Regions from separate parts of the Homo sapiens genome. Here region 1 is linked to region 2. The links come from fine-mapping of genetic effects on plasma protein levels. Region 2 holds a variant in brackets. A gene starts in the other region. All regions are shown on one strand. Distances are from middle to middle.

Region 1 (3,008 bases), 10 Mb after region 2:
GCAAGTGCATTCTTCTGAGCCTCAGTTTCCCACCTAGGCTTTGTCCTCCCAGGTCCCTGCAGGGAGCAGATGGGCAGCTCCTGGGTGTGTTAGTGCCAGTGCTGGGGCCCCCGGATATTATCCCTCCACCCCCACCACCAGGGCAGGACCCCCTTGGTGACTCACCACCCAGTGGTCCATGGCAGGGGTAACCCAGCCACAGGTGCCGGTGATCCTCGGCTCTCTCCCTTCCCCCAGGGTCTGGCCAGCTGAGGATGCCCCTTGGTTTGGGGGAGGTTTGCAGGGAGGTCAGTGGGAGGGCAAAGGGAGTCCCTGATGCCTTCCCCGGGGCCACATGTGAGGCTCAGGCCTGGGCCTGGGAGGGTTTGTCCAGGTGTAGTCTCTTTTATCCTCTTTGCTGGTAGAGACCTCTGGCCTGGGCCCAACCTGTTGAAGAGAGGGCGTTGCACAATAGGGAGGTAAAAGGTGACGGCAGACCTGGCGGGACAGAAGCCCCATTGTTTGGGTCCCAGGCCAGCCTGGGCAAAGAAAGGTTTATGCCTGCGGCAGGAAGGAGGGCCTCTGCAGGGGGTGCCAGCTGGTAGGGCCCTTGCCTTTGGACCCTTGGAGGGGGACAGGTGCCAAGCAGGATGCCCTTGGGTTTGCTAGAGAGGGCAGTGCTCGTCTAGGGGCCCAAGCAGGCAAGGGAAGGCAGACTCAACAAGGGATCAAAGGGTGCAGAGGCCACCCCCACACCCTGCCCACCTCCCAGGGATGAGCCGCCCAGGGCACCTAAGGATCATACTCCTGGAATTCCAATCATTCCTAGGAGCTGGGGTGGCTAGGGGGGCGGCACCCAAGCCTAGGGGGCACAGTGGAGAGGGGTGTGCATGGCTATTTTTATTACCGAGGGGTCAGGAGAGGCTTACAGAATTTTGCCTCACATGCCCTCCCCATCATTTCCCAAACTTGTGTCCATAACCCAGAGCTCGGCTGCCCATATCCCCCCTTCTCCACCAGAGCCCCTCAGCTCCACAGGGATGCCCACTGTGAAGTCCTTCCCAGTGTGAAACCGCAATCCTTCCTGCTTGGGGTTCCCCTAAGGGAACGGCTTCCGCCACAGGAGACCCAGCCAGGACAATCGTGTGCTTGTCGTTTCTCCACCCTGCAAGCCCATGAGTTGTGGGGTAGTTACTCCAGGTACAAGCCAGGCGCCCCTCCCTTCCGCCACTGCTGGGGCGGTGCAGAGGGCGGGCGGTACAAAAAGCGCCCCGCCCCGCGCTCCTCTCTTGACTTTGAGCGTCCGGCGGTCGCAGAGCCAGGAGGCGGAGGCGCGCGGGCCAGCCTGGGCCCCAGCCCACACCTTCACCAGGTAGGGACGCTCCCCTGCTCAGAGGGCGGAAGGTGTAGACAGAGAAGAAACAGGGGGAGGGGGCAGGTAGAGGAACCAAGACAGATGGCAGAGAGAGGGACAGTGGAGGGGGACAGAGGGACACAGGAACAGAAGAGAGGTGTACCCAAAAGACCGGGGGAGACAGGAAAGCACAAAGTCAAGGACCCAGGTCAGGGATGGAGGCTGCTGGAGGGCAGAGAGACCTAGGACAGGAGAGAAGACCTTGGGTCCACAGGATGAGTGTTGGGTGGGAGCACCAAGAATGCCACCACCCTCATTTCCTTGTCCTTGAAGGTCCCTGCCTAGGTCAGGGAGGGGCTCCGTTTCTGCCCAGTCCCCATCCCCCTATAGCCAGGGCCCACACACTGGGGCTCCTCTGCCCGTGTCCTGCCTGGGGACTCAGGAATCGGGATCTCCCTCCCTGCTGGGCCCTCTTGAACTCACAGCTCCAGGAAACTGGGAGACTCATCCCTGGTGTTCCAGGGAGTCTCTGCTGCCCACCATCTCTGCCCCCCAGGGCCCAGGAGCCACCATGTGGCGATGTCCACTGGGGCTACTGCTGTTGCTGCCGCTGGCTGGCCACTTGGCTCTGGGTGCCCAGCAGGGTCGTGGGCGCCGGGAGCTAGCACCGGGTCTGCACCTGCGGGGCATCCGGGACGCGGGAGGCCGGTACTGCCAGGAGCAGGACCTGTGCTGCCGCGGCCGTGCCGACGACTGTGCCCTGCCCTACCTGGGCGCCATCTGTTACTGTGACCTCTTCTGCAACCGCACGGTCTCCGACTGCTGCCCTGACTTCTGGGACTTCTGCCTCGGCGTGCCACCCCCTTTTCCCCCGATCCAAGGTGGGCACTAAGATGGCCAGGAGGGTGGGTCACTTTGTCCACCTCAGACTCAGCAAGGCTCAAGAGCAAAGCTGATGGATGCACTGACATTTCCAGGGGAAGCTCTGTAGAATCTGGGACTCTTCCCTGCCCCTCTGGGAACTTTACTCTCCAGCAAGACTGAAGAAGCTCCTTGGTTAGAATTCTAATTTGGCCCAGGGAAAGGGCAACCTCCCACATTTTCTCCCAATCCTGTCTCTTTTCCAGACACGGAAGGTGCTGGCCGCACCTGCTGACTCACTCTTGGGCTGATAAGGCACATATGGGTTGGTGAGGGTCATCTTAGCCATTTTTCTGCCTTTGCTGAGGATTCTAGGATCCTGTGCCCCGAGATGGCTGCTCATACCTGGGAGATGGGTCAAATCTTTTCCTGCTTTCAGCCTCACCATCATCCTTTTCCATGCACTTGCCCCTGTCCAATAGGAGAATCACTTGCGTTCCTTCCCACAGTTCCATGGGGCTTGGGCCGGCAGACTGCATACCTGAGCTGTCATCTCAAGAGTGCTGTGTTATCTTAGGACGGTTGCTTACCTTCTCTGGGCCTTGGCTTCCCCATGCTCCTCCCACTCCCCATCTCCAAGCCCTAACTTATTTAAATGGAAAAGGATCCCAGGAATGTTGTGGCTGGCATCCAAGTAAAGTAAGAGGAATCCAGGTTGGAATCATTGAAGAACTTCCCAAACAGCAGTTGGTGTGTGACCCTGCAGGATTTGTCTTCAGTTATAGTTTAATTTCAGTGAGAGCTGGTGTGTGTG
Region 2 (2,069 bases):
TGGATTCAAGAGGCCTGCTCTGCCAGACAGCCCCCTGAGGATCTGGGGGTGAAGGGAGAGAGGGGCTGCTCACTGACATTTACAGAGCCATGCCCAGTGCCAACTGCCCGAGCCTGCCTTGGTACCGAACTAGAGAGCTTCTGGGTACCCAAGCAGGCTGATTGGAGAGGCAGGAGCACGAGAGACTGAGGCCCCCACTCCCCACTGCAGGGATGGGTGTCTCCACAGTGACGGCTGCCCGCATCCTCAAGGGTCAGCTCCACCACAACCCTGGGGAGGAGACCAGGCTGGAGATGGACAAGTTCCCCTTCGTGGCCCTCTCCAAGGTGAGCCCCATCCCCAAGCCCAGTTCAGGTCTGTATATCCAGTATCCAGGTCGAGCATCTGAACATGACAGCAGCCAGAGGTCCCCTGACCCCCTGAGCCCCCTCCATGCCCAAGCCCACTCCCCACCTGGAGCAGCCACTGCCCTGACTTCTGACACCATAGCATCACTGTACCTGCTTGCGGGTGTGTGTTTAGAGAGAGGGTCTTGCTCTGTTGCCCAGGCTGCAGTGCAGTGGTGCAGTCATAGCTCACTGCAGCCTCCAACTCCTGGGCTCAAGCCATCCTCCCACGTTAGCCTCCCGAGTAGCTGGGACTACAGGTGTGTACCACCACATATGGATAATTAGAGACCCCCCCAAGGTCTCTAATTCTTGGGCTTAAGCGATCCTACAGCCTTGGCCTCCCAGTCTTGGGATTACAGGCGTGAGCCACCATGCAC[G/A]GCCTATATATGCCTTTTTTTTTTTTTTTTTTTTGAGACAGTCTTACTCTGTCTTCCAGGCTGGAGTACAGTAGCATGACATCAGCTCACTGCAACCTCTGCCTCCCGAGTTCAAGTGATTCTTCTGCCTCAGCCTCCCAAGTAGCTGGGATTACAGGCATGCGCCACCATGCCCAGCTAATTTTTTTATTTTTAGTAGAGACAAGGTTTCACCCTGTTGGCCAGGCTGGTCTCGAACTCCTGACCCCAGGTGATCTGCCCACCTTGGCCTCCCAAAGTGCTAGGATTACAGGCATGAGCCACCGTGCCTGGCCTGTATACACTTTTGCATGAAGTTCCAGTTCATTCATTCTTTCCCGAGGCAGTTCGTGAAGTTAATTAGACTATAGGCATACCTCAGCTATACTTCGGGTTTGGTTCCAGGCCACTGTAATAAAGCAAATATTGCAATGAAGCAAGTCACACATTTTTTGGTTTCCCAGTGCATATAAAAGTTATGTTTGCACCCTACAGTAGTCTTTTAAGTGTGGGATAGCATTATGTCTAAAAAAATGTATATACCTTAATTTAAAAATATGCTATTGCTAAAAAACGCTAATGAAGTGAGCTCATGTTTTTGGAAAAAATGATGCTGATAGACTTGCTTGACACAGGGTTGCCACAGATCTTCAATTTGTAACAAACACAGTGTCTGTGGAGTACACTAAAATGAGGTGTGCCTGTACTGACCTAGGTTGTTCAAGGCAGTGTGCACTGCCGGGTAGCTATTGCTATTGGTGGTGGTGATAGTGGTGTTATGTAATAACCTCCAGACCCTGGGTCAGGCCCCAGGCTCACTTCTGGGGGAGTAGTGGGGACTATGGTGCCTTCTGTGCCTTCAAGGTGCTCTCAGGCTGGTGGGGAAGGGAGACAGGCAAATAGTTTTGGGGTCTCTGCTAAACATCCGGATGTAGGGCAACCCTGTGATGGTGGCCGCAGGGCAGGTGGCAGAGAAGTCAGCGCTGGTCTTGGCCCCACCCTTCCCTTCCCCAGTCCCCTTCCCCCTCACTTTCACTACCCTATCCCCAGACCCCCCACTCCTTCAAGAAGGCCCCTCCCTCTCCCTTCTCCAGGACTCCCCTGCTCCCCAACCCCTTGCTGGCTCCTGCAGCCCCAGGCCCGGAGAGAGGCCTCCGCTGACCCCACCTGAGCCCCAATCTTCCGCCGGACACTTCTCTGTACTTTGGAGAGCTAAGGTCCTGCCCCAGTGCTGCCAGGGTGCAGGGAATGATGGCAGGAAGCAGGCAGCTAGGTAGTCCTGTGG

Which allele goes with the higher level. Positions count from the first base shown, and alleles are read on the strand shown. Strength reflects both the effect of a copy and how common the allele is.
With allele G in place of A in region 2, the plasma level of the protein whose gene starts at base 1,271 in region 1 is lower (moderate association).

The links. PIP is the chance, under the fine-mapping model, that this variant and not a neighbour inherited with it causes the effect. Protein levels are from antibody-based Olink assays in UK Biobank. Linkage for the fine-mapping came from a reference panel and not from the study's own genotypes, which makes the PIPs less certain.
Region 1: TINAGL1 starts here. The variant in region 2 is fine-mapped to the plasma level of the TINAGL1 protein (UK Biobank, PIP above 0.99).

The regions. Positions count from the first base shown.
Region 1 is chr1:31,575,245-31,578,252 of GRCh38, forward strand. It overlaps TINAGL1 (tubulointerstitial nephritis antigen like 1), which reads left to right and starts at 1,271. Exons shown (of 12, transcript NM_022164.3): 1 at 1,271-1,351; 2 at 1,890-2,214. The coding sequence starts at 1,905. LOC105378626 (a long non-coding RNA gene) reads right to left here and starts at 2,653. Exons shown (of 6, transcript NR_188671.1): 1 at 2,600-2,653; 2 at 166-426. RefSeq lists an enhancer at 1,082-1,802.
Region 2 is chr1:21,560,887-21,562,955 of GRCh38, forward strand. It overlaps ALPL (alkaline phosphatase, biomineralization associated), which reads left to right. Exons shown (of 12, transcript NM_000478.6): 4 at 211-326. Among named protein-coding and RNA genes, the nearest start is that of LINC02596, 25 kb to the right of the region's middle. The variant G/A (reference allele first, on the strand shown) is at 767.